Homo sapiens: one gene and its partners. The protein of the gene in region 2 interacts with the protein of the main gene of each other region in a pairwise test. Each region holds a gene or a part of one and is shown on either strand. Other genes may lie near its edges. The genes, in order: RAB40B, EFEMP2, RBP3 and DOK7.

Evidence for each region.
Region 1: the proteins of EFEMP2 (region 2) and RAB40B interact in binary tests that used the Homo sapiens proteins (3 or more experiments, as listed by UniProt).
Region 3: the proteins of EFEMP2 (region 2) and RBP3 interact in binary tests that used the Homo sapiens proteins (3 or more experiments, as listed by UniProt).
Region 4: the proteins of EFEMP2 (region 2) and DOK7 interact in binary tests that used the Homo sapiens proteins (3 or more experiments, as listed by UniProt).

What each region holds. Positions count from the first base shown.
Region 1 is NC_000017.11:82,654,465-82,660,713, reverse strand, and holds the end of RAB40B (ras-related protein Rab-40B), read left to right. Parts: intron 1-1,056; coding exon 1,057-1,134; intron 1,135-2,000; coding exon 2,001-2,223; intron 2,224-2,579; coding exon 2,580-2,851; 3' UTR 2,852-5,741; downstream 5,742-6,249. UniProt on the Homo sapiens protein: RAB40B small GTPase acts as substrate-recognition components of the ECS(RAB40B) E3 ubiquitin ligase complex which mediates the ubiquitination of target proteins.
Region 2 is NC_000011.10:65,869,793-65,877,439, forward strand, and holds the start of EFEMP2 (EGF-containing fibulin-like extracellular matrix protein 2 precursor), read right to left. Parts: upstream 3,009-7,647; 5' UTR 2,891-3,008; intron 2,570-2,890; 5' UTR 2,563-2,569; coding exon 2,452-2,562; intron 2,227-2,451; coding exon 2,178-2,226; intron 1,572-2,177; coding exon 1,365-1,571; intron 867-1,364; coding exon 744-866; intron 446-743; coding exon 329-445; intron 185-328; coding exon 65-184; intron 1-64. UniProt on the Homo sapiens protein: Plays a crucial role in elastic fiber formation in tissue, and in the formation of ultrastructural connections between elastic laminae and smooth muscle cells in the aorta, therefore participates in terminal differentiation and maturation of smooth muscle cell (SMC) and in the mechanical properties and wall integrity maintenance of the aorta.
Region 3 is NC_000010.11:47,344,198-47,351,362, reverse strand, and holds the start of RBP3 (retinol-binding protein 3 precursor), read right to left. Parts: upstream 3,001-7,165; 5' UTR 2,879-3,000; coding exon 1-2,878.
Region 4 is NC_000004.12:3,473,306-3,480,328, forward strand, and holds part of DOK7 (protein Dok-7), read left to right. Parts: intron 1-100; coding exon 101-331; intron 332-1,634; exon of another isoform or gene 1,635-2,453; intron 2,454-2,995; exon of another isoform or gene 2,996-3,036; coding exon 3,037-3,237; exon of another isoform or gene 3,238-7,023. UniProt on the Homo sapiens protein: Probable muscle-intrinsic activator of MUSK that plays an essential role in neuromuscular synaptogenesis. Acts in aneural activation of MUSK and subsequent acetylcholine receptor (AchR) clustering in myotubes. Induces autophosphorylation of MUSK.

The DNA of each region.
Region 1 (6,249 bases), on a different chromosome or scaffold from region 2:
GAGTGCCTGTGTGTGTGTGTGTGTGTACATGTGTGTGCAGGTACGTGCACTGTGCATACGTCTGCATGAGTGCCTGTGCGTGTGTGTGTGCACGTGTGTGCAGGTATGTGCAGTGTATGTGTGCATCTGGGCATGAGTGCCTGTGCGTGTGTGTGTGTACACGTGTGTGTAGGTATGTGCACTGTGTATGCATCTGTGCATGAGTGCCTGCATGTGCGTGTATGTGTACACGTGTGCAGGTACTTGCACTGTGTATGCGTGCATCTGCATGAGTGCCTGTGCGTGTGTTTACACGTGTGTGAAGGTACATGCCCTGTGTATGCGTGCATCTGTGCATGAGTGCCTGTGCGTGTGTGTGTGTACACGTGCGTGCAGGTACGTGCCCTGTGTATGAGTCTGTGCATGAGTGCCTGCTTGTGTGTGTAATGTGTACGTGTGTGCTTGCCTGTTTATGTGCATGCATGTGCACACATGAACTGCGTGTGTGCACTGTGTGTGCATCTGTGCATGAGTGCCTATGTGTATGTGTATGCAACATGTGTGCAGGTATGCACTGTGTGCGTCTGTGCATGAGTACACGTGTGTACACGTGTGCAGGTATGTGCACTGTGTCTGTGCATGAGTGCCTGCGTGTGTGTATGCAACATGTGTGCAGGTACGTGCACTGTGTGTGCGTGCATCTGTGCACAAGTGCCTGTGTGTGCGTGAGCTCCATGTGTATGTGCACGTGTATGCGTGCAATCCATCCAGGTGAGTGGGCCACACTCCTCGAGAGGTGGCGATTACTGCGGTGCCCCTGCATCCTGTGTTCCTGGAGTGGCTCGTGGGTGTGAGTTCTAGTCCCCAGATCACCGTGACATTTGAGGGTTTATCACTGAGCTTATGAAATATCACTGAAAATGATCATAAAACTGCTACATTCAGTTGATAAATCAAAATTATGTACTTTGTGTTAAAATAAGGAAAGTGGTTATTTAGTTGTATGTCTTTGCGTGCATGGCCACAGCTGTGCCTGCATCTGTGTTCTGCGTGCTGAGCCTGTGACCTCTCCCCCAGGGTGTGATCCTGGTCTATGACATTGCGAACCGCTGGTCTTTTGACGGCATTGATCGATGGATTAAGGAGATCGATGAGGTATGTTGTAGAAATGCCACTGCCCAAGATCCCTGTAGGCTTGGGAGGACGTCAGGCCAGGAATTAGGGCCGGGCCCTCCAGGGCTCATGGGTACCCATGGATCACAGGCCAGGGCACCGGATGGCGCTCCAGCAGGAAGGAGGGTGCCTCACCTCGGCACAACACTGGATAGGGCTTTGGTGATAGCTACAATCACGAAAGCTCAGGAAGCTGGTCCAGACGAAACGAGCGTCCACGGCGTACCTCGGCTATGCGTGGGGTCAGGTTTGGCCTGCTTCACTCCCTGCTGTGGTCGGGCTGGGCTGACCAGCAGTGACCGGCGCTTGTGCCTGCTGGCACGCAGACCAGCCCGCCTGGCAATGGTGACATGGCGTGGTCGACACTAAGCCCACTGTATGAGTGTCCCGGGGCTGCTAGAACCGACGACCACAACCTGGGCGTCCTGAACAACAGAAATGCATTCTCTCACGGTTCTGGAGGCCAGAGCCCAAAACCAAGGTGTCGGCAGGGCCACTTCCCTACAGCCGCCTCTCCCAGCTCTCGGCGGTGCCAGCAACCCTGGGCCCTCCCTGGCTTGTGGCTGCACCGCTCCAGCCTCTGCCTTCGCGTAACATGGCCTCCTCCGAGTGTCTGTGTCTTCTCTTCTCCCAAGGACACCAGTCATTAGATGAGGGCCCTAATTCAGTGCGGCCGCACCGTAACTATTTACGTCTGCAAAGACGGTCTTTCCAAACGAGGTCCCATGCTGAGGTTCTGGGTGGACATGAACTCGTGGGGGGTTCCTCGACCCAGAGCACCCACATTACGACGACAACAAAATCTCACTGAAGTAACCCATGCTCCTCGCCTTTCTCCTGCCCGCTAGCATGCCCCCGGAGTCCCCAAGATCCTGGTGGGGAACCGCCTGCACCTGGCGTTCAAGCGGCAGGTGCCCACGGAGCAGGCCCAGGCCTACGCCGAGCGCCTGGGCGTGACCTTCTTTGAGGTCAGCCCTCTGTGCAATTTCAACATCACAGAGTCGTTCACGGAGCTGGCCAGGATCGTGCTGCTGCGGCATGGGATGGACCGGCTCTGGCGGCCGAGCAAGGGTAGGCCCAGGGGCTATTCCGGGGGCCACCTCTGCCCTCCAGATGCCGAGGTGGGTCAGCGGCCCCCTGGATAAGTGTCTGCCTCCCGGGACCCGTCTCAAGGCCACTGTGTCCGTTCTCAGAGCAAGGCATTTGAGAGAAGTAATGACTACAGCTTTGTCAGAAAGCTCATGAGGGAGCTCCTGGGATCTGTACGTGGGCAGAGGGGACGTCGCGGCAGGGCTTGCTGCATGTACAAGCCAGGGCCACGGGCGTCCGAGCCTTGGGAGGGCGGGAGAACAGGTGTGGGCACCACCCCTCATTCCCAGCCCAGGTGGGGACATCCACTAAGCAAGGTTTATCTTTTCTCTCCCAAGTGCTGAGCTTGCAAGACCTCTGCTGCCGGGCGGTCGTGTCCTGCACGCCGGTGCACCTGGTGGACAAGCTCCCGCTCCCCATTGCCTTAAGAAGCCACCTCAAGTCCTTCTCGATGGCCAACGGCCTGAATGCCAGGATGATGCACGGCGGTTCCTACTCCCTCACCACCAGCTCCACCCACAAAAGGAGCAGCCTCCGCAAAGTGAAGCTCGTCCGCCCCCCCCAGAGCCCCCCCAAAAACTGCACCAGAAACAGCTGCAAAATTTCTTAAGGAAGGCACTGAAAGAAACACGGCGGAATCTCTCCAGGAGAAGCTCGGCGTTACCCCCGGCAGCTGGTGGATGCATCTCAGATCCCGGTTCCTCTCGGCGAATGCTGCTTGCGAATGTGTGCGACGCCTTCCGTGTGATGGAAACACACTACCCCGTCGGACTTCGAATTTCTACGTGGATGTGCATGAAGCTCTTGTTTTCGATGTGTGTTTGTAAAGGGAAAATTAGTACTCTGCTCGACTCTTGGTAACATGAAATTCTGAATGTTACTTTATCATGATTGCACTGCAACTTTTTCCTTAAAATAACTGCTTTTGTAAGAACGGTGATATTGGAGTGATTAGTATAAATTCAATGGAATTTGAGAAGCAATGGCAGCGGGATAATTTAGAGTCACTGATATTACGAGAGGGGTCTTTTTGTAAACCTCCTTTTCAATGTCAAAGCGCCAATTTATAAAACGCTGCAGATGTAGAGGTTATGTGCAACTGATCTGTCCAGTTTGTGTATGAAATGGATTTGATAAAGTTTTTGCTAGTTATTTACTACATTTTGGGATTAATAAGTGATTTATATGCATATTTTTCTGTAAATCTACAGTTTTTTGTACAAGATATTCTACAAGTTATGAAGCTAAGGGAAGAAAATGCCAAAGATACCTCTAGTTATGTTGAACACAGCCAGCACAGTTTCGACATGTCAAGGAAGAGCTGTTTCAGTAAAGAATGAAGTGAAAACACTTATTTAGGAAAATGTTTCTCAACAATAAAATGTATAGTTGTTTCTCTCTTGGTAGAGTTGGCGACCGGTTCTTTCGAATTTTGTATTTATTTATTTATTTATTTTTGAGACAGAGTTTCGCTCTTGTTGCCCAGGGTGGAGTACAATGGCACGATCTGGGCTCACCACAACCTCCGCCTCCCGGGTTCAAGCGATTCTCCTGCCTCAGCCTCCCGAGTAGCTGGGATTACAGAGGTGCACCACCACGCCCGGCTAATTTTTGTATTTTTAGTAGAGATGGGGTTTCACCATGTTGGTCAGGCTGGTGTTGAACTCCTAACCTCAGGTGATCCACCCACCTTGGCCTCCCAAAGTGCTGGGATTACAGGCGTGAGCCACTGCGCCCGGCCAGATTTTGTGTATTTCTTATAGCCCTTTACTTCACTGCGCCACTGCCTGGTGTAGACATCACATATCGGAGCTAATACACGACACTGGCAACAAGGCTGAATCCTTGAACTGTTGTCGCCTGTTGAGAAAGGATTCCTTTTCCGGAACAGAAGTGCAGAGGAGGAGAGAGCGGAGAGTTAAAAGCTGGCACCCAGGCATGTGCCTGTCTGAGAAATCAGAGCCGTGCTCCTGAGCCTCGGTGAGGAGCTCCGAGGGGCTGTCAGGAATTCCGCATGAAGATGTAGCCCCTGACCCCGACTGCCTCAGAGCAGGGCTGACCGCAAAGACCTCCAGGGCCGCTCTCTTCCCTGGTCACACTGTTGAACGTTTCTCTGTGGCTGGGGGTCGCAAATGAGGGACTAAACCAAAAAAACGAAGCGAGAAAATACCCAGATGTTCCTAGTTCCTGCTGATGATCTGTAGATTCTTAGAAACTTAAGGGACCCAGCTGGGTGTGATGGCTCACACCTGTAATCCCAGCACTTCAGGAGGCCGAGGCAGCCGGATCAGAGGTCAGGAGTTCAAGACCAGTCTGGCCAACGTGATGAAACCCCGTCTCTAATAAAATTACAAAAATTGGCTTGGCATGGCAGCGCACACCTGTAATCCCAGCTACTCAGGAGGCTGAAGCAGGAGAATCACTTGAACCTGGGAGGCAGGGGTTGCAGTGAGCCGAGATCGTACCACTGCACCCCAGCCTGGGCGACAAGTGAAACTCCATCTAAAAAAAAAAAAAAAAAAGAAATTTAAGGGACCCTAGAATCAGGGGCAAAGCCTGTATTCAGAGATGGTGGAACCGAGGCCCAGACAGGAGAGAGGAGCACTGGTCCCTGCGGGTGGACCCAGGCTTGGGGGTGTCTGGCCACCTGGGCACGGCAGCCACGGGGACAAAGTCCACGGGGAGGCAGGGGTGTGGTCTGTGGGCAGAAGGTGAACCCTGAGGGGACAGTGTCTGGAGAGGGTGGCCAGCCTCGTGCAGGCACGCTGCAAAGACCTGTGCACCCTTCTCTCTGCTGTGCCACAGGTGGGGTGAGAACGACAGGGCCGACCTCCCAGCTGCAAACACAAGGACACTGAGATGCACAGAAAGGAGAGTCCACGTTGAAGAAACCCACGTTGAGGGGCCTCTTCTCCCTCCGTTCCCAGCTCGCTGATGGTGAAGGGTAAGGAAATGGATCCTCCCATTGCAACATTAAACCAGGCCAAACCTGTATTTTTCTCTTCCTTCCTTTTTCTTGTTTTGTAATTGATGTCTCCTCGGGACTACTGATAATGTCCTAGAAAGAATAAAATAAAGTTTCCCAAGGCTTTGTGACTCAGAGCTCTTTGGAGGTGTTCACCGAATGCACGGGCCGCCCGGAGGCCTTGGCCCTCCAGGGAAACACCACCAGAAGTCCCCAGAAGCGGAACATGTAGCAAGGAGGCTCCCCGAGATCTCCCAGAGGGAGCACAGCCCTGCCAAGTTATTGGTTTTGGACTTCCGGCTTCCAGAGCTACGAGAAAATAAATATTTGTTATTTAAGTCACCAGGTTTGTGGCGATTGTTACGGCAGCCTCAGGAAACTCCTACAAGGAAGTGAGTTACGCTCACGGCAGAAAGTGCTACAGCAAACCAAGGCAGAACAAAAACAGACGAAACCTAATACAGACCGGACTAAGTAGAAGACTGTGTGTTTGGGTGGTGAATATACAAAAAACATAAATATAAATTAAACCTTAGAGAAACTTTGTCATTTTCTTGTCATGTTCAGAGGTGTGGCCTGTTGCTTTAGATCTACAGATTCTTACACACTTTCTTCTCTTAAGAAAGGCTGGCACCTGCCTTTTAAAACCACTGTCCTGGCAGGGCGCGGTGGCTCATGTCTGTAATCCTAACACTTTGGGAGGCTGAGGCAGGCGGATTGCCTGAGCTTAGGAGTTCAAGACCAGCCTGGGCAACATGATGAAACCCCGTCTCTACTAAAAATACAAACCACTAGCCGGGCATGGTGGTGCACGTCTATAGTCCCAGCTACTAAGGAGGCTGAGGCATGAAAATTGCTTGGACCTGGGAGGTGGAGGTTGCAGTCAGCTGAGATTGCACCACTGCACTCCAGCCTGAGTGACAGAGTGAGGCTCCATCTCAAATAAAAATAAAACCACTGTCCCTACCCTGCCGCAGTGCTGAACTCGAGCTGATACTGGTTTTTCTCCTCTACATTCCCATGATGACAGCAAACCCCGCTGG
Region 2 (7,647 bases):
AGGCACGGCATAGCTAGGGCCTGGGGGTCCACAGAGGAGTACACAGCAGGGATGGAGCTCTCACCACTGCAGGAGAAGCCATCCCGATGCAGCTCATAGCCCTGGTGGCAGCGACACAGGAAGGTCCCATAGGAGTTGAAGCAGCGCTGCTCGCATGGGGCCCCCATGTCACACTCGTTCACATCTGGGGGTGCCAGGAAAAACAGGAGGGATGAAAGCGGAGGAGGAGCCCAGAGCCTCCACTCTACCTGGGCTGGTCAAGAAGGGAGCGCCCCCACCTCACACCTCCCTGCCCAGGACCCAGGAGCCTGGCCCAGCCCAGCCTCACCAACACAGGAGCGGTTGTTAGGCCCCAGCTGGAAGCCCGGCTCGCACTGGCAGCGGAAGGAGCCAGGCAGGTTCACGCAGCGGTGCTGGCAGTAGCGGTAGCGGCACTCGTCTATGTCTAGGGATAGAGGCAGGAGAAGGAGGGCGGAGGGCAGAGGGCAGAGGGCAGGTGGGCTCGAGCCGGCTGGGACTCAAGGCTTCACCACCCATAATCCTGTGTCCGAGGAGCTGAATTAGGCAGGGTCAGCCAGGACACCTCCCAAACACTCCCCGCTACAGTCCTCTGTGTCTGATGACGGAGGGTGAGGTGGCAGGGGCCGGGGGTGAAGCCTGGCTTGAATGGGGGTCAGGTGCTAGGGCAAGGGCCAGACCAGGGACACAAAGCCGGGACTACAGAAGCTGCTTCCTGGACTCACCCACACACTCGGGCCCGATCTTGCGGTAACCATCAGGGCAGGTGCACTGATAGGAGCCAGGCAAGTTATGGCAGTCCTGGCTGGGGCGACAGTCGTGCAGGGCCTGGGCACACTCGTCCACATCTGCGAGAGACACCACTCAGCCCCTGCCTGGGATCCCGCACACCACCCAACATGACAGATAGTTCCAACACTTGTATTCGGTTCTCTCAACAGCACGCGTAAGAGTTCACCAGCCTGGAGCCATCAGGAAAGGCACCCCTAACCTCTAAAACCACATGTTGGGGGTTGCACAGGAAATAAGGTCCTGTCCAAACATCCCCAGCAACACTGATTCCTGGACTGTCCTTCCTCCAAGGCCTGTGGCTCCCAGGGGACAGACACTGGAAGGCAGACTTCCTGCAGTGTCTCTGCAGCAACCGAGGGGAGGGGCCCGGAGCTGGCTGGAGCAGTGGCACACAAGCTGGGGCCACCTGCGGCAGGTCCTAAACAACATGAGTGTCTGGATGAGGGTGTGGACATCACCAGTGGCCCTTTTGAGCTGGGGAGGAACATGAGGTCTGAGTTTAAGACGCCTGGTGAGAGGACTGGAAGCCAGGCACCAGAGCAGTCCCCACTCACCCACACAGCTGTCCTGATCGTCGGGCTCATAGCCTGGTGGGCAGGGGTTGGGGTGTTGAGCGGGAGGCACTGGTGGCGGGGGTCCCTCGCCGTGTAGGTCGTTGATGACGGCAGCGGAGCGGGGCAGGCACAAGTAGCCCCCGTAGTGGTTGATGCACTTCATTTCCCCCTTGCAGGCCTCAGGGATGGTCAGACACTCGTTGACATCTGCAGAGAGGGGCCTGCTGGGCACAGCCAGTCTCCTGGGCTGGCCCTGGAGGGAGCGGAGGCAGGAACCCAGCTCGGCCTTCTCTGAGATGTGTGGCCCCAGCAAAGCCTTCCCACTCTGCTCAACAAGCTAAGTCTGCCTGCTCAGGACCCCTCCCCAGGGTTGGCCAAGGCTGGAGATGGGGCAGCTGTTCCCACTGTTGCCCTCATTCTCGGCCTGCAAGTGGGTCTCTATCCCTCCCCACGGCCCTAGCCCTAGCTCAGCCCAAGATGGGGGGCCTCCTTACCCACCCCTGGGGACGCTACCCTCCCAGGTTGTGATGAGACAAAGAGCTGGGACAGGAGAGTGGTTCAGAGAAGGCGTACAGGATCCAGCTCCTCTGAGGGGTAGGGACAAGGTTTCCTGGGTTTCTGGGAGAGGATGAGGCCACCCCTAGCTCAACTGGCCTCCAGAGAGCCAGAGCTGGCCTCTGTGTAGCAGAGCTGGGCATAGAACGGGCTGCTGGGCTCCCACGGCAGTTCTTGGAGGTGGGGCTGTCCCTTGGAAAGCAGCTATCAATCCCTTTCCGGGTTCCTGGGGGTGTTTGGTCCCCCAGGCACACACACCCCGGCAGTGCTGGCTGTCTGGGTCCCACTCATAGCCATCTGTGCATTCCTGGAAGGGAACCAGAAGTGGCCAGTGGTCACCCTAAGATCTCCTCCAACTGGCCAGGCCAAGACTAGGGCCTGAGCCTGGCCACCCTCCGGCCTGCTCCAAACAATGGCCCCCAGCTCTCCACCAGCCAGGGGAGGAAGACTTCCCCGGCAGCAGTCACCCTGGGTCCCGGTCTCTTCCTCCCTACCCTTCCTGTCCCAGGCCAGCGGCCCTCACTGTCCCCACCGTGTAGCTGTCGGGCTCTTCAGAATCCTGAGGAGAAGCTGATCCCAAGAGCAACAGTAGCAGCGCCCAGAGCAGTAGAGACCCGGGTAGGCAGGAGGCGCAGGGGAGCATCCTGGGGCTGCGAGATGGTGGACACGGGTCAGGGGCCTCTGCCCGCGGCACCTCAACTCCCTGTACCGGGAGCCCGAGCCCAGCCCCCGCCACTGCCCGCTCAGGACCGTGCTTGGGCCTCGGGGCCTCCCAGGGCTGGGGGCCGACTCCTCACAGGCCCAGGTCCCAGGCCCGGGTCCCAGGCCCACCCGCCCCGGCCACCCCGCCCCCGCCCCGCGCCCCTGCGGCGAAGGCCGAGGAGCGCGGGCCTCTGTGGGCGCTACGCTGCCGCGGACTCGGCCGAGACTCCGGCCCACGCCCTCCCCCACGGACGGTCACAGCCACTCACTTGGGCCCGCGACACCCCCGCGGCCCGCGGCTCTGGCGGCTCGGCTGGCTCGGGCAATGCCTGCGGGCAGACGGACGGGCGGACGGCACAGCTCCCTGGACGCGCGGCCCCAGGAAGCGCCCCCCGCCCGCCCGCCTGCCGCGGCGCGGCCCACCCCGGCGCCTCCGCCCGCCCTTCGGCGGATTCCTGAGCCAGCGCCAGGGGGAGGGACCCCGACCCCCCGCTTCTCCGCCCCCGGCCAGCCACAGGCCCCTACCCGGTCCCCCGCGGCGCCGCCAGGAGCCGCCTCCCGGCGCCGGACCAGGGTCCCCCAGTGCTCGATCCTGGGGCCCCGACCTTGATGCCAGGCCCCCAGACTCACCCGGGGGCCCCCAGACGCTCACCAAAAATGTCATCCTGCTCACCTAGGTCCTACCTAATCTGCGCCCCCAGAATTTCATCCTGTGCACCCACACCGTAATCCTGGAGCCCCCAGATTCTCATTGTGCGCCTCCCGAGATCGTCCTGGGTACCTAGAGCCCACCTAACCCAGTCCTCCAGACCCTCAATCTGCTCCCTGCAAAATTTTATTCTCTGCCCCAGACCGTCATTGTAAAAGATCCTAAAACTTCATCCAGGGTCCCCAGACCCTCGCCCAGGAACGAGAGGCTCCCAGGAGCAGAACTGTCCTTCTCGCTCCCTCCTGCCCTCCACCCCCAGGACCGTCTTCAGCCGGGTGGTCCTTTCACTACACACGGCCTCCCCCACACCCTCCATCCACAAAGCTACAAGTTTGGGGGCGAGGGCGGCAGTTCCCTTTTGGCACAAAATGAATGGAAGCCCCTGAGAAGGAGGGCAGGGCTGATGTCGGACGTGCGGGATGCCAGAGTCGGGTGCCAAGGCGCCTCCTCGACCTCCTCGCACCAGCGTCCCCCGCCCGGTTTCCGCCTCCGCCCGAAGTGGGGGCGTGTCCTTGGGGCGGAGTATGGGCGGGGCTGGCTCCCAGGAAGGGCGTGGCCTCTGTTTGCCCACGTCTTTGGGCGGGGCCAGGCGGGAAAGCACTGCGTGTCCGGGGATCCCCCGCCTGGGGCCCGCCCTTCCTTTCCCCTTGCCATCCCTGCTTATCCCCGCAGTCGCCCTCCACGTGACCCCGGGGAGGGAGTCTGCCGAGGAGGGGACGTGCTGGTGGGTCCCGCGGCGAGCGCCTGGGGCTCAGGTGAACTGCGCAGTGCCCGCTCCTCGCCACTCTGCCACCACCATCCCTCCCAGCTGCTGGGGCAGAAGGTTAAATAATAGCTCTTTAGGGGCCGGACGCGGTGGCTCAAGCCTGTAATCCCAGCACTTTGAGAGGCCGAGGCAGGTGGATCACCTGAGGTCAGGAGTTCGAGACCAGTCTGGACAACATGGTGAAACCCCGTCTCTACTAAAAATATAAAAATTAGCCAGGCGTGGTGGCGCGTGCCTGTAGTCGCAGCTACTCAGGAGCCTGAGGCAGGAGAATCACCTGAACTCGGGAGGTGGAGGTTGCAGAGAGCCCAGATCACACTGCTGCACTCCATGGGTGACAGAGGGAGACTCCATCTTAAAATAATAATAATAATAATAGGCCCGACGCGGTGGCTCACGCCTGTAACCCCAACACTTTGGGAGGCCAAGGTGGGCAGATCACAAGGTCAGGAGTTCAAGACCAGCCTGGCCAACATGGTGAAACCCTGTCTTTACAAAAACACAAAGAAATTAGCTGGTGTAGTGGCACGTGCCTCTAATCCCAGCTACTCGGGAGTCTGAGGCAGAATAATCTCTTAAACCCGGGAGGCAGTTGTTGCAATGAGCCGAGATTGTGCCATTGCACTCCAGCCTGGGCGACAGAGCGAGACTCCATCTCAAAAATAGTAATAATAATAATAGCTCTTTAAAACGAGAAAGACAGTAACAAGTGTTGGCAAAGATACGGAGAAACTGGAGCCCTCATGCACTGTTGGTGGACAATGGTCTGGCAGTTCCTCAAAATGTTATCACATGACCTGACAATTTCACTCCTAGGTATACATACCTAGGATAATTGAAAAGATATGTACACACACACAAATCTGTACGCAGCGTTTATAGCTGCACTATATATAAGAGCCAAATGCAGAAACAACACAAAAGCCGTCAACTGATGAATAACAAGATGCAGTACATCCACACAGTCGAACATTATTCAGCCATAAAAACTAATGAAGTACTGATGCATGCCACAATATAGGTGAATTCTTTTTTTTTTTTTTTTTTTTAATTGAGACGGAGTCTTGCTCTGTCGCCCAGGCTGGAGTGCAGTGGCGCCATCTCGGCTCACTGCCAGCTCCGCTTCCTGGGTTCACGCCATTCTCCTGCCTCAGCCTCCTGAGTAGCTGGGACTACAGGCACCCGCCACCAGGCCCGGCTAATTTTTTGTATTTTTAGTAGAGATGGGGTTTCACCGTGTTAGCCAGGATGGTCTCAATCTCCTGACCTTGTGATCCGCCTACCTTGGCCTCCCAAAGTGCTGGGATTACAGGCGTGAGCCACCGCGCCCGGCCAATATAGGTGAATTCTTGAAACTACTATGTGAAGTGAAAGAAGCCAGACACAAAAAGCCACATATTCCATTTATTTTTTATTTTTTTTAGATGGAGTTTCGCTCTTGTTGCCCAGGCTGGAGTGCAATGGCATGATCTCAGCTCACCACAATCTCTGCCTCCTGGGTTCAAGCAATTCTCCTACCTCAGGCTCCGGAATGGCTGGGATTACAGGTGCCTGCCACCACACCTGGCTAATTTTGTATTTTTAGCCGAGATGGGGTTTCACCATATTGGTCAGGCTGGTCTCGAACTCCCGACCTCAGGTGATCCACCCACCCTGGCCTCCCAAAGTGCTTGGATTACAGGCGTGAGCCACCGTGCCTGGCCCACGTATTCCATTTATATGAAATAACCAGAATAGGCAAACCCAGAAAAACAGAAAGTAGATTAATGGTTGCCAGAGGAAGGTGGGGAATGGGGAGTGTCTGCTAATGGGGTCTGGGTTTTCTTTGGGATAATGAAAATATTCTAACACTAGATAGTAGTGATGGTCACACAACTATGCAAACATACAAAAACCCACTGAATTGTACACTTCAAAAAAGTGAATTTTCTTTGGGAGGCCGAGGCGGGTGGATCATGAGGTTAGGAGATCAAGACCATCCTGGCTAAGACAGTGAAACCCCATCTCTACTAAACAAATTAGCCTGGCGTGGTGGCAGGCGCCTGTAGTCCCAGCTAATCGGGAGGCTGAGGCTGGAGAACGGCGTGAACCTGGGAGGTGGAGCTTGCAGTGAGCCGAGATCGCGCCACTGCACTCCAGCCTGGACGACAAAGTGAGACTCTGTCTCAAAAAAAAAAATGTGAGTTTTATAGTATGTAATAATACCACAATAGGCCAGGCACGGTGGCTCACGCCCGTAATCCCAGCACTTTAGGAGGCCAAGGTGGGTGGATCACCTAAGGTCAGGAATTCCAGACCAACTTGGCCAACATGACAAAACCCCATCTCTACTAAAAACACAAAAATTAGCGGGCTATGGGGGCGAACGCCTGTAGTCCCAGCTACTCAGGAGGCTGAGGCAGGAGAATCACTTGAACCGGAGAGGTGGAGTTTGCAGTAAGCCAAGATCGTGCCACTGCACTCCAGCCTGGGCAACAGAGCAAGACTCTGTCTCAAAAAAAGGAAATATAAAAAAAGGCAGGAAAGGGGTGCTGCTATCACCCCATTTCACAGATAGGGAGGCTGAGAGACTTGTCCCAGGTGAAGGATGGGACTTGCACTCATGTCCCACGGACTTCAAGACTCGCTGGGCTCCTTGCCCCATATTAGAGCATTAAGGACCCGCCCTGCAAACACCCACTCTGTGCCAGCCACAGTGGTGGGTGCTCCACTAAGTATCTTCCACTCAAGCCTCAGCCTGAGAATTGTCATTGCCAATTAGAGATGAAGACATGAGGCCCAGGGGGGATGACTTAGTGCACAGCTGGTGCACAACCTAGACCTGAACCTCCATCTTTGCACTATCCAGCCCGAGTGAGCCTTCCACTTGGAGTTGCCTCCTCAGAATGCCTCCCTCGTCCTCTGCACCCCCAGTGACTTTCCCTGCCTTCGCCTGCTCTGCACTGGGTCCCTTTCAAGGTCCCAGACACCACTGGATCAGTGTCTCCCTCCTACCAAGCAGGGAGCTCCTCTCAGGCAGTGAGGCCCCTGTGCCCATGGCCCAGCCCTTACTGGGTACCAGCTGGGATCTGCAGAGTAGGCAGTTGAATGAACAAATGAGTGAGTGGGTGGAGGAAGTTCATTGATTCACTCAACAAATGTTTTCTCGGCCGGGTGCAGTGGCTCACGCCTGTAATCCCAGCACTTTGGGAGGCCAAGGCAGGTGGATTGCTTGAGGTCAGGAGTTTGAGACCAGCCTGACCAACATGGTGAAACCCTGTCTCTACTAAAAATACAAAAAGATTACCCCAGCATGGTGGTGCACACCTGTAGCCCTAGTTACTTGGGAGGCTGAGGCAGGAGAATTGCTGGAACCCGGGAGGCAGAGGTTGCGGTGAGCCGAGATCGTGACACTGCACTCCAGGCTGGGCGACAGAGTGAGACTCTGTCTCAAAAAAACAAAGCAAAACAAAACAAACAATGTTTACTGAGTGGCCACTGTGAAGCAGATGCTGTGGTGCTAGCCAGGGACACAGCACTGACCAAAAACAGACCCAAACCTCCTGGCCTCA
Region 3 (7,165 bases), on a different chromosome or scaffold from region 2:
TGGCCCCCAGCTCGGCAGAGGCATAGTTATCAGCCACCAGCTTCCCGGCCGTCTGCAGCACCGTGGGCACCTTGGCACGCAGAGCCACTATGTCCTGGGCTATGGAAAGGGCTTCGCTCATGGGCACAGTGATGTCGGGCTCCACACCAGCCAGGTCCCAGGCCTTGCCTGTGGTGGCACTCATGGCCATCTGGGTGGGCATGGATGCATATAAGGGGCTGCTGCCCACCTGGTAGATGCCCACAGAGAGTGCGCCTCCGGCCGTGGGCTCCCCAATGACCGTGGCCCGCTGCAGGTCCTGCATGGTGTGTGCAAAGGCCTCGGCCGCAGAGCCACTGGTGTGGCTCATCAGGATGTAGAGGTCCTTGTGTGAGCCGTAGCGCTGGCCGGCGACCTGGGGCAAGGTCCACACCTCCGTGACTTTTGAGGTGGCCCTGTCAAAGACAGAATACAGGTGCTGGCGGGGCTCTGCCTCAAAGAAGTAGGAGCAGAGCAGCGGGATGGCCGTGGAGTAGCTGCCAGGGTTGTAGCGCAGGTCGATCACCAGCGCAGCCGTGTCCACCAGCTGTTGCCATACCAGCCGCACCAGCTGTGGCCCCACGGCCTTCACTGTCTCCAGTTCAGCCATGGCGTCAAAACGCAGGTAGCCCAGCTGGCCGGGCAGCACCTCTGTCTTGAACAGGGCCTCAATAAGGTAGGTGAGCTCCTCTGGAGAGGGGACAGCAGGGGGTGGTGGGGGTGCTTCCTCTACCACCAGCTCGCCAGGGCTGTGGAACACTAGCAAGCGGTGGTCCCCAGACACCTCCTGGAGGTCTGCTGTGAGCTGAGAGGCCAGAGACTCCAAGTCCACAGCTGTGCGGTAGGCGCCCTGGGCCAGCTTGGCCCGCAGGAGGGCACTGGTCTGCCCCACGACCTCTGGCCGAGCATAGTGGGCCTCCAGCAGGTGCCCTGTGCCCTCCACCAAGGCCCCCAGGCTTTGGTGGAACTCCAGCACTTCCTGGGCTTTGTCCAGGGCCTCCTCGGCCAGCACGATGGCATCGGGCACCACTCCACCACCCAGCCAGGCCTCGCCGTGATTGTCGATGAAGGTGAGGACCGGCACGGTGAGCGCGAGGCTGCCTTCGGGTGTGTCCAGCAGCGGCACCGTGCGGGTGTGCAGCAGGTTGCCCGCGGTGATCTCACCTACCAGTGTGGCCCAGCCCAGCGACTGCATAAGGAAGGCGAACTCCTCCGCGGCCGTGGCGGTGCGGTGGCTGGTGAGCAGATACACCCCACGTTGGGTGCTGTAGCGTGGGCCCGGGAGCTCCATGTGGCTGAAGTGCTCCTGCGTGATGTTGGTGCGGCGATCATAGGTGGTGAAGAGGTGCACGGGGCCGGCCTCAGGGCCCTGGAAGTAGGACAGGAGCAGGGGCACAGCAGAGGATGGCCCTCCAGGGTTGTGGCGCAGGTCCATGATGAGGTGCTCCGTGTCCTGTAGCGGCTCCCACACCTGGCGCAGGACATATGGGGCCAACACACCCAGGACGGAGGCGTCAGCAAAACTATCGAAGCGCAGGTAGCCCACATTGCCTGGCAGCACCGACACCTGGAACACAGAGTCCACCAGTGCTTGCCGGATAGCCTCGTCCTCAGGCAACTCTGGGGCCACCCCTGGTGAGTCTTCGGCTGCAGCGTCGGGCGCGGGCCAAGAAGGAGTTTCTGTGGGCCCGATGGCTCGCACCAGGAGCCTGGGATCCTCAGACGCAGCCTGCAGGCCGGCATTGAGCTTGGTGACCAGATCTTCCTCGGAGACCACCGTGGAGAAGTCCATGCTGGCCAAGTGCTGCAGCAGGGTGGGCACACGGTCCACCAGCGTGTAGTAGTCCTTCAGGACCTCCTGGAGGCAGTGGACTACCCCTGGAAGGGCGCTGCGCAGAGTGAGGATGGCCAGGGCTTTCTCCAGGGCCTGCTCGGCCGGAGTCCCCACACAGGGCAGCACCCCGCTGCCCTCCCACGTCTGGCTGCCTCCACCAAGGGGCCCCAGGGACCTGGACACGGGCACCGTGAAGAAGAAGTCAGACTCGCCTATCCTCAGCTTCCGGAGGTCCAGGGCCCCTCCCCCAGTCCGCTCGCCCACCACGATGGCCCTGCGCATCTGCTTAAGGATGTGCGCGATGTCCTCGGCCACGCCCCTGGTCTGGCTGCTGGTGAGGACCACCACATCCTTGTCGGCACCGTACCTTTCTCCCAGGACCTGGGGCAAGGTCCAGATCTCCGTGGTGGTGTTGGAGGGGCGGTTGTAGATAGTGTCCACGTGCAGGATGGTGTTCCCTGGGTGCAGGTAGGAGATGATGTAGGGAATGCCAGAGACCTGGCCTCCTGTGCAGTGCCGGAGATCCAGCACTAAGGCGGAGGTGCCCATGAGATTCCCCCACACGTGGGCCACCAGGAACTCCCCCATCATGCTCAGCACCTCCTGGCCCGGGACGCTGTCCACCCGCAGGTAGCCCACATTACCCTCCAGAACCTCATGGCGGAGGCCCCTTTGCAGCCAGGCAAGCAGTTCCTCTTCTGAGAGGCTGGTGAGTGCTGGGACTTGTGGGGGAGGCTCGGGGGTGCTGGGCTCATAGGAGATGACCAGGCGAGGATCGTTCAGGGAGCTCTGCACCCCGGCTGTCAGCACACTGGCCAGCGTCTGCGGGTCTGAGATGCTCAGAATCTCATGGCTCTTGATGGCCTGCTGGATGGCTTCCTGCATGCCCAGCAGGTTCTCCGGGAAGCAGTAGTTATCCAAGAGGACCTTGGCCATGTCCAGCACCAGGCTTGGCTGGAACAGGTGTGTGGGGCCAGCCAGGCCACAGAGCAGCACGGACATGAGCAGAACCCATTCTCTCATCATGGGGACCCAGGGGGAGGCCTGGCTCCTGCACAAAAGCTCCCTGGACTGTGTGCAAGGCCGTGGCCCTGCTCTGTGCAGCTGCCTTCCGCCCTTGTCCTTCTCAGCTGGTGGACAGAAGGTCTGGGGCTAAACTCCTGAGTTGGGGCAAGGCTTCCAGCTCCAGTAAGCCTTTAATCCTGTCTAATTCAAGCACATCAACCCTGGGTATCGGGGAGGAGTGGCCAGGGTGGTTTGACCCAGAAGGTACATTGCATCTTATCTTGCTGTGTTGTGTCTGCATATCATAACATTAATCACTGCCATTATTTTAGTTCCTGCTACATGCCAGACACTGTGCTCCATCCTTTACAAGCTGACAGTTTCCACCAGAGCCTTGCAAAGTCCAGTTATTAACTTGCAAGTCCTCCTTGGAGAACTGTTCTGCCACTGTCTCTCCCGTGGCCTCAGGGAAATGTCTTAATTACTTATTGTGTAGATTAAATGAGAAAATATGTGTAAAGCACTTCTTCCCAGTACCCAGTAAGTAGGAAGCACTCATTACTGGTAAGTTATCTGTATTAGATATTACCTCTGTTTCATAGCTAAAAAACAAAAAAACAAAAAAACAAAACAAAACAAAGCAAAGCAAAACAAAACAGGCCAGAGAGTTCTGTAACTAATAGAAGCCCATCGTTTTAGGTGTGGACAGATAGGGGGTGCAGCAAGAAGAAGTCCTTGGGGCTACAATTGGCCCATACAGTGCAGAGGCTGAGTCTGAGGCTGGCATCAGCCTCAGAGCTTGAGATTTATTTCTATGTCCCTTTAATGCCTCCAGGGAACAGAACGGGTCCCCCTACAGCTTTCTAATGCTGGGAATGATGTGTCTGGACCACCATGTAGGGTGTGGAGTGTAGAGGCGCCCACCTTCCAGACATCACAGGACTAGTGTTCCCATTCAAATGAGGTTAGCTCTGAGAGTTAATGGCTAGAGGGGACTCCTGCTTCTTGAAGGCTCAGCCCACAGCCTGCAGTTCGCAGGGAGAATCAAGCAGGAAGTCTTGGGTCTCCGTGGTCCCAGGCTTCACATGGAATCCAGATCATTCCTCCTGACTGCATAAAGCACAAGAAACAGGGAAAGGTAGACTGCTGAACTCTTCAGATCCCAGCTCCTGCCACTTCTTATAGAAATAATGTGGGTGCTGCTTGCAACTGACTGGCTGTAGAAATCCAAGAAGTCCTGCTATGGGGTCGGAACCTGGAAGCCCTGCTTTGCCGCTGAATGCCTCTGGAGATGGGCACTTTCCTCACTTAACAGACAGACAACTACGGCCCAGAGAGTGGTCGCAAGGCCAGGGCAGAGCGTTGGGAGAGCTGTCCCAAGCTGGCTCCAGCAACACCGCCTTGGCTGAGCGGGCAGCAGGCAGGCGCCCCTGTGTGCCTCAGTAGGCAGCTGGAGAAGGTGGTCTCAGGGACGTGGGCTTTCTCTACACAGCTGAGACCCACAATCTGCTCTTTGGAAATCATTATCTGAGGATGTTTACCAACTGCTTTATGAAGGCCAAAGAGGTCAATTAGCTAAAACAAACATATTTTTAGCTCATTAGGATTTGTGTAATGCTCAAGTGACATATGGTCACATCACTCCACCGTATGCAGCCAATGGAAGTGAGCCTGATTTACGATGAGAATGGGGTGGGGCTGGGATGCTGCCAACACCTCCGGATGAATGCACTCCTTGCATATCCTTAGCCCTGCTGGGAAGCCTGGGCCTTCTCCTCTGCCTCCACTTGGAGAATCACAGTTCTGAGCATGCACTTCCGTGTCCTCAGAGGGCACTTGTCTGCCATTGCTTGAGTCCAGGCAAAGCTTCTGGCCCAGAAAGGGCTTGGGGGAGAACAGGAGTAAGACTGTCTTTGGGGAAAGGATTCCCTGGAGTCTTACTAAGATGTAGTTTCAGGATAGGATTGTCTGGACCTATCACTGGGATTTGATTTGTGTGGCTAGCCCAGAGCCTTAAGAAGGACGTGAGAAAAAATCAGACTGTTGCAAGTCCCTGGGGTGCCTGAGTTGGATGGGGCATGGGTAGAGAAGCAGTGCTTCTCCTGTGGGTAAGGCCCAAGCAGGTGGAAGAGCAAGTTCTGTCCTCAGAGTTCTCCAGACTCCAGGGGGCCAGGGTGTCCTTGCCCCCAGGCCGTGGGGGGATGTAGGAAGATGGCAGCCAGCCTCCTTAGCTCATGAGGAGAATATGTTCTGGGTAAGTCCCCAGAGTGAAAGCCGAGAGCTCTACATCTTCCCATCCAGACCCTGACAACTGTAGGGCCAGGGTGGGTTCAGAGAGTCCACTTGATCTTGGGGGCTGAGTTTTGGAGTTGGAGGGGGCTGGAAGGCCCTGCACCCCCTCACTTATACAAATGTCCTGTGGGCAGAGCTGTGCAGGGTAGCTTAGAAGCCATCCTGAACTGAACTGGTGAGAACTGAATAGGTGAGTGGGTGAGATCTTGATAAGGTGACATGAGACCTTGATCAGGCGACATGAGACCATGATTAGGTGACTCGACTGCTCTGAGCCTTGGCTTCTTCAAAAGGGAAAACAGAATAAGGAGAAAAGCCTCAGTATTGCTGGAGGATTAGGTGTTTCCATCCTAGAAGTTATGAAAGGAAGTTGAGGACGTAGGAGTTGGTGAGGGGCAGCTTGGGTCTGCCTGGGATTAGAACACCCCTGTGGTATTAGGGAAAGTCATTCCAAGAGGCTGGGGCTGCCCTGGAGACCTGGAGTCCTAGGGCTTCTTAGGCTCCAAACCTTTCCTGGGCCTCTACATATCTAAGGAGAAATGACCAGACCCAGGCTCCAGAGCCCAGCCCTGCAGCACCTGCAGCGCAGGTTAAGAGGGGGACAATGACACATCAGGGCTGCTGCAGGGATGGTCAGGGAGCAAGCGGAGCTGGGCAGTACAGGAAGGAGCGTCTTGCCTATTGCATCACAGATGTTGTCTTTTCAGTGGCCAAAGCCCTCGTCTGTCTATTGTTTTATGTTAGTTTTCCCCTCGATGTTTTATAATGGAAATGTTCAAGTGGTACAGCAAATATCTATATGCCATCATTTAAAGAAATGCTTTGACATGTTCACATTTTAAAGAACTTATCCGAGCAGATAGCGATTCATGAATCTGGTAGCTCCCCACAAGAGGCAGTTTGGGGCTCTGCAAGGGAGCACAAGGGGAGGCTTCCACAGGGTGAAGGCAGAAGTGGAATAAATATTACAGATGCTTTGGTTGCTTAGCGTTTCGGCCCTTGCATGATTTGGGACATCCTAGTGGAAAGTTCGAGACCATGCAACTGATGTCCAGTTGGCCATCAGTGGTTGGCTGGACTTAAGCTTCGGTTTCTTTTAAATTAGCTGCTTACAGTAAATGAGTCTGAGTTAGATTTCAATTTGCTCTTGTAGGAAATCAGGGCGTTAGAGCCACCTTAGTTTAATGGCTGCCTCCCTAGATTCTACCACAGACATTTTATTACCCCTTTCTCATCTCAGCTCCGCCTCACTAGCCTCTTCTACCCTGCAAGCCTCCTCTCCCCTGCAAACCAACACATTTTTAAATGCACTTCAAAGCAAATTGAACCTTGACTTTTTATTCATTTTATGTATTTTCATTTTACTTTTTTCTTAAATCAGAGGAGTAAAACATACTCATTTTTGTAGAAATGTGCAAACAAACCTTTTCCAAAGCTTTTAAAATCCAGCCTCCTTTAGTAACAAATAATCAGCATTGAATGTCTAGCCATTGTCACCTGTGTCTGTGTACACGCAGGGAGGTGCACATATAGGAGAGATCCATCCACACATCTATGGGCACCCCATCCATTTGTCCATCCTATTGTCAGCCGTTTATTAGCATAGATGATAATTTGCATTTTGTTTTACTCACTTAAACATACAACACAAACATCCTTCCCAGTTGAAGTATACTCATTAAACTCATCCTTTTAATGGCTACATGTAGTCTGGGGATCCCTAATCTAAAAATCTGAAATCTGAAATGCTCCAAAACCTGAAACTTTTTGAGCACCGACACAACACCACAAGTGAAAAATTTCACACATAAGTACTTAACACCAACTTTGTTTCATGCAAAAAATTATTTAAAATATTGATATAGTTACCTTTAGGCTATGCGTATAAGGCATACATGAGGCATAAATACTGTGTTTAGACTAGAGTCCCACTCCCAGGATATCTCATTATGTACATACAGATATTCCAAAATCCAAAAAGAATCTGAAATCTAAAACACTTCTTTCTCCAAAACT
Region 4 (7,023 bases), on a different chromosome or scaffold from region 2:
CCCCAGCCCGGGTCTCTGCACTGTCACGGCCTCCCCGGGGACGCCAAGGGTGCGGGCAGGCGGTGTTGGCTGGCGTCCCTGACGGCCACGCTCCTTGCAGACTGCCTGCTGATGCTGGTCTACAAGGACAAGTCGGAGCGTATCAAGGGCCTGCGGGAGCGCAGCAGCCTGACGCTAGAGGACATCTGCGGGCTGGAGCCCGGCCTGCCCTACGAGGGCCTGGTCCACACGCTGGCCATTGTCTGCCTGTCCCAGGCCATCATGCTGGGCTTTGACAGCCACGAGGCCATGTGTGCGTGGGATGCCCGGATCCGCTATGCGCTCGGCGAGGGTGAGTGACGGGGGCCGGGGCCGGGCGGGGGCTCCCCGTTCAGGTGTGCCGGGGCCCCTCACCAACGTGGGCTGCAGAGGTGGGAGCGGCTCCAGGGAACCGTGCAGGAAGATGGGACATTCATGGGTGCCTTAGGGTGGACTGAGCTCCAGCCTGGGGGTGCCCACGAGGGTTTGGGAGGGGGAGTCTGCTGGGCTATGGTGTCTTTAGAGCTCCCTAGCCTGACCGTTAGTTACAACTGGAGCCTTTAACCCAAGCTGGTGGCCTTTGGAGGGACGTGGCTTCCCAAAGCCCTGCCCTTTGCTTCCTACACTGGACAGTGGAGCCCAGAGCCTGGCTAGGAAGGAGAGCCCCAGGCTGGGCGGTCCCACCCCAGCTTCCCCCCAAAACAGGATGGGAGGGAGGGAGGGAATAGAGGGAGGGGAGAGGGAGGGGAAGGGAGTGCTCCCCTGTGGAACTGGCCCTGGAAGAGGTGGAACGTCAGTCCCAGCCCTGCAGGGGCTTCGAATGGGTGCCTGGGGGCCTCTGGGGGCTGAGCTGCCCTGGGGCTGTGAGCAGAGGTGGGTGGTGATGGGGCCCTGGGCACTCAGCGGCAGAGCAAGCATAATCCTGCATCTCCTAAGAAACCAAAATCAGTGCCAAAACCCCATAATGAGCAAAACAGTAGAATGTCCACTGAGTTGAGTCCTGGTCCTACCCTGGCACCCACCCAATAATCCCAGCAGCCACAGCTGCCCTCCCTTTAAAAACTTGCTATTTTAGGCTGGGCACGGTGGCTCATACCTGTAATTCCAGTACTTCGGGAGGCTGAGGTGGGTGGATCACCTGAGCCCAGGAGATAGAGACCAGACCACCCTGGGCAACGTGGCGAAACCTCGTCTCTACTAAAAATACAAAAATGATGGCCAGGTGCAGTGGCTCATGCCTGTAAACCTTGTGCTTTGGGAGGCCAAGGCGGGCAGATCACCTGAGGTCAGGACTTCGAGACCAGCCTGGCCAACATAGCGAAGCCCCATCTCTACTAAAAATGGAAAAATTAGCCTGGTGTGGTGGTGGGCACATGTAATCCCAGCTACTCAGGAGGCTGAGACAGGAGAATCGCTTGAACCTGGGAGGCAGAGGTTGCAATGAGCTGAGATCGCGCCATTGCACTCCAGCCTGGGCAACAGAGTAGGACTCCATCTCAAAAAAAAAAGAGCTGGGAGGTGGAGGTTGCGGTGACCTGAGGTTGTGCCACTGCCCTCTAGCCTGGGCGACAGAGTGAGACCCTGTCTCAAAAAAACAAACACAAAAAAACTTGCTATTTTGATCAGCATGGACTCTGCATAACTTTACTTTTTAAAATATTGATTAAAATATCCTGGCCCTTGATGGCTGAGTTCTTTGGCCTTGGAGGTGAGTGTCCCGCTCCCCCAGTCTTGTCCCCAAGGCAGCAGCCCCTCCTGCTCCATTGAGTGGGGAGAGAGAAGCTGGGGGCTTAGTGGGAGGAGGTGCGGTTGGCTCTGCAGGAGGGCGCAGGGGAAGGAGACATTAGGAGGGAAGAACTGCATCTTTCCAGAAAGTTCTCCCGTTGGGGGTTCCCTCCAGCCTGGCTCAGCGGCATGGGTCTGCTTCCTTCATCCGCTGGCGCAGGGCCATGGCACAGAGGCCGCTGGGCACCGCCCAGGCAGCTTCATCTTGATAGAACGTGGCCTGACAAGGATGCGCCTGAGGCCACAGCTTGGAGCAGGTAGAGGAGGCAGAGAAGGGGGAGGTGGGATGGGAACAGGGGTCCCTTTGGCTCTGGGGGTTGGAGATGGAGCAGGTGGGGCCCCTGGTGGGGAGGCTGCTGTCTGCCTGGTGTGCTGACCTGGGAAGACAGGGGAGGTGGGGACAGCATTCAGGACCACTGTCCTCTCTGAGGCTTTCAGGGGCAGGGGCCTGGGCAGAGCCAGTGCACAGGACCATGGGGGTGCTCAGGGTTTGGGTGAATGGCCACCTGGATGGAGAGAGGGCCGGTGGTGCCCTGAGGTTCCCGTGGCCAGGCTGGGGCCTCGATACAGACTCCAGACTCTCCACACCCGAACTGGAGGCTGGGGGATCCCTGAGCCTCGGTTTCCCCTTCTGTGATGGAGCCACACAGCTGTGGAGAGAGAGCCTTCCTGGAGAGGTGCCGGGGGTGGGAGCCCAGCCAGGGCACTCAGCTGCCCTGTCCTCCCTAGCACCTCCGTGGTGGGAGGGGAGGGAGGTGGAGGTCCGAGGTCAGGCCCCTCTGGGACTTCCTTGCCCCTGAACAAAGATAGTTCCTGGGAGGATGGCAAGGAGAGAAGTGCAGCCCCCAGGCCCCCTCGTGGCTGTGAGGAGTGCCATTTGCTCATCCTGCCGTCGCTGCCTCCCCGGCTGACACCTGGGCGGCTGCCCCCACCTGCCCCAGCCTGGCCCCTGCCCCTGCTGCCTCCTCCCGAGATGCCCTCTCACCCCACCTGTCCACAGTGGCCCCTGTTGCCTCCTCTCATGATGCCCTCTCGCCCCGCCTGACCGTGATGCCCTCTCGCCCCGCCCACCCTCGATGCCCTCTCACCTCACCCGCCCATGATGCCCTCTCGCCCCGCCTGCCCGTGATGCCCTCTCACCCCACCCGCCCGTGATGCCCTCTCACCCCACCCGCCCGTGATGTCCTCTCACCCTGCCCGCCCGTGATGCCCTCTTGCCCCGCCTGCCCGCAGTGCATAGGTTCCATGTGACAGTGGCTCCAGGCACCAAGTTGGAGAGCGGCCCGGCTACCCTGCACCTCTGCAATGATGTCCTCGTCTTGGCCAGGGACATCCCCCCGGCTGTCACGGGGCAGTGGAAGCTGTCTGACCTCCGGCGCTACGGGGCCGTGCCAAGCGGATTCATCTTTGAAGGCGGGACCAGGTGTGGGTACTGTAAGTACGGATGTGTGGGGTCACTGGGCAGCAGCAGCACCCCCCACTTCCCCTGAGAACTGCTGGCTTCGGGCCGGCCGACCCCACTTGCAGGCTGGCCTGCTGGCATTTCCAGAATGCGCCGGCAGGTGGACGGAGTCTCCCCACGCTCGATGTCCAAGGTCCTCTGCCCGCAGGAACCTCAGTGTGGAGTGTCGAGGAGGGGCCTCGGCTACCTCTGCTCTTCCTCACTGGAGGGAGAGAGTTCAGGGATGCGAGGAGGGGCCTGAGGCCACAGAGCCTCAGAGCCGCTCATATCCAGATTTCATGGAAAGGAAAAAACAAAGAACAAACGCATTTAGCAGTGGGGAGTGTGAGCTCCCGCATAAGCACCGCAGAAACATATTCTTGGACCAAGAATTCCTGGTGGACATGCCAGCCACCCCGCCTGTGGGCCGCCCAGAGCTGCCCTAATGTCCCCAGTGAGGTGGCCAGGCCGTGGGTGGGGATGGCCTGAGTCCTCTGGGCCTGTGAAGGCCTGAGAGCTGTCCTCACTCAGCCAGGGGAGTGAGGGAAATCGGAGCAGGAAGGCACCCAGCCCTGCCCAGAGAGTCTGAGGTGCCCGCCGGGGCTGTGCAGGAGCAGGTTGTTCCAGCAACCCCCTCCACTTTCTCCCATGTTGGGTGCAGATGCGCCAGGTTGCCCTGTGGACCTGCAGTCCCCGCGGAGGGTGTGACGCCTCCTCTCTTCTCTCTGGAGGGGCAGCTGCTCATTGGCCGGGCTGAAGGCGGGCAGAGGGACCTCCTGTGGGCCTGGTTTGGGGCTGAGAGGACTGAGGGACTGCACTTGGCTCACACTGGTGGGGGCTCTGGTGGAGCCTGGATGTGTCTGGGTGGAGGAAACGCAGGCAAGGACACGGGCCACACTGGCCGCCTGGGACCTCATCCTGCAAAGGCCAGCTGGGGCACGGGCGCAAGCCCATCTGGGTGCCACGTTCTGCCACCTTCTGCGCTGGGCGCTGGGAGCAAACCCAGTAGGTCTTGTGGCAGGAGCCAGCCCTGTTGGGGCCTTTGAGGAGACGACATCTGACCCTTGAAAGGGGAACAGGGCAGTGAGGCTCAGGCTCCACGGACTGGGGGCGTACACAGCCAGCTGCAGGAGGCACGTGCGGCAGAGCTGGCCCGGAGTCTCGGCCCCTGGGGCTGGCAGGGGCCATAGCCAGAGTCCAAAGGGCCTTGGCCCCTCTGGGATTGGAGAGCCAGTATGGATGGGCAGGGCCGCTGCCTATGCCAGCTGTGAGCTGGTGCGGGGGGTGGGGTGGGGGGTGGTTCCCGGGAGAGCTAGGACACCTGTCGGGGTCCCATCTGCCCCCAGGCCCTCCCTGCGGCAGGCCAGAGGTTCAGTACTGGGGCTTCGGGAGCCACTGGGGAGTGGGTTGGCGGTGGCTGGGCACAGTGGGTGGGCCCAGCGTCCCTGTCCTTTGTCGTGTGGGAAGCCAGAGCTGCAGGCTGTAGTTGTCCTGACACAGGCAGCCTGTCCTGTCTGTTGTGTGCTAGGTTTGGGGGTGCCTGGAGGAGGGGGACCCATACCTTCCTTTCTGTCTGTGGAATTCCTTGGCACGGGCAGGCAGCCGGCCGGGGTGGCGCCGCGTGCTCACCCTCTAAGCCGGGGCACAGCAGGAGGACCCGTTTCCTTGGAGACCTGCTTATTTTGTCTGGGCCATAATGGAATGGGGACACTGGATGTTTTTCCTCTGAGGCCGTGGAGGTTCACATCCCTGCCGAGGTGTGGGTGGCCCCTTTTCCGCTGGTAAACAATCCCACACCTGGGGCTGTGCTTCTCCCCAGGGCGAGGCTACTGTGCCGTTTTCCTGGGCTGCTCAAAAGCTGGGGGCACTCTTGTGGGGCCGTCTGTCTTGCTGCTGCCTCTCCGGGGCAAGCTGTTAGAGCAGCCCCACCCGCAAACCTGCAAACCAGGCTGGCCCCACAGAACCTGAAAACCTGCAAACCGGGCTGGCCCCACAGAACCCACAAACCTGCAGACTGGGCTGGCCCCACAGAACCCGCAAACGGGGGCTGGCCCCACAGAACCCGCCTTTGCAGCTCAGTGCTGAATGTTCTCGTCCCCGGTGGTACCCTGGCCTGAGAGAGGAAGGGCTCTGGGAATTCGGTCACCGACGGCTGCACACCCCGTAGGGTAGGTGGGTTCTGGAGGCCAGGCTGGAAGGCTTGGCCGAGCCACCCATCCCTGTCCCCAGCAGGCCCTGCTGGGCTGTATCCTCCTGGAGACAGGCGTGGCCACCACCCTGGGTGGTTTAGGCTGGGTCTTAGACTCGGCCAAGCGGTGGTGTTCTCAACGCAGCACTGAGTGCAGGCCGTCTGGCTGGAGGGACGGGGAGTCTGCGGCACGTGTGGGCAGCCTGGGGCCTCCTGCGGGAGGGAGCCGGCAACTCGGGTGGTCCAGGGGCAGCGGCATCAGCTTCCTGGGGCTTCTGTAGCAGATGACCCCCAAGAGAGGGCCAAGTGTCCAGAACGGGTTCCTTCTGCAGCCTGGAGGCCAGAAACCCCAAATCAAGGGGTCCTCAGGGTTGGCTTTTTCCAAAAGCTCTTGGGGAGGACCCATGGGAAGGTCCTTCCTGCCCCTTCCAGCCGCTGGTGGCCCCGGCGGCCTCGGCTCGTGGCTGTGCCACTCCAGTCCCTGCGCCTGCTGGCTCCTGCGTGAGCCTCCTCTTCAGTCTCTTGCAGTCTGTGGACTTAGGGCCCACCTGGATGACCCAGGGTGACCCCATCCCGAGACCATCAATTCCATCCGCAGAGGCTCCTGTTCACAGGCCCTGGTATGTGAACACATTTTGTGGGCCACCATTTGGCCGACAACTGGGGCCACTGGGACGGAGAAATATCCAGAATCTGAATCCCAATAAGTCTGTGGGTGTCGTCACATTCAGTCTGGAGGTCACAGCTGGGCTGGAGTCGTGGGAAGGCCCTGGAAGTTCTTGGGTGTAGGAAATCCACATTCCCTCCTTCCCCAGGGACAGGTCCTAGCCTGGCCCCCGATCCCCAGAACCGCCTCACTTGGCCCCGCCACAGCCAGCTCTGCAGAGAGCAGAGAGGGTGACCCTGGCCCAAGGCGATGGCTGCGCCTCACTCATCCTGAGACACTGGGCGTGGCTGTGCATCACGGGGGCCCTGGTGGGGGTCGGGTGGAGACAGGCCTGGCTGGTCTTGGTGCCTGGGGGGCAGAGGTCTCTCTGTGGACAGCTGCCTGTTCAGAATGGGACAGGAGGTGGCTTGGTGACAGCAACCCCCGGGTCCCCAGTGTGGCCCAATTCCCCGTCTCTGTTGGTCACGGGCCTGTAGTGTGGACTCCTGGAGCTTGGCCCGAGCGCACTTGGCACATGGCAGGCGACGGTCTGTGGACAGCTCAGGTCTGCAGGCTCCAGCCTCACACACGGGCAAGTGACTGGGCCCCGCCTTCGGGGATGGACTGTGCGTGGTGGAGAGTGATGCAGAGAGGGCCACTCGCCCTGGGACAGGCTCAGCTTGCAGCACAGACGGTGGTGGGCCCCAGAGAGGGTGAGCCCACCCAGAGCCTAGGAAGGGAGGGCTTTGGAGGCGCAGGGGGACGTTTGAGCTGGGCCTTGAGGGTGAATGGAAGCTTTTGGAGGTGCCCCCTTTTTCCCCCCTTACCTGCTCTCTCCAGCTGGGTCCAGTCCAAGGACCATATCTGCCTCTTTGCCCAGCCTCTGGGGGCCGCCCGGAGCATTTGAAACTCATTTTGACTTTTAAAAATGATTAAGAATGTGGC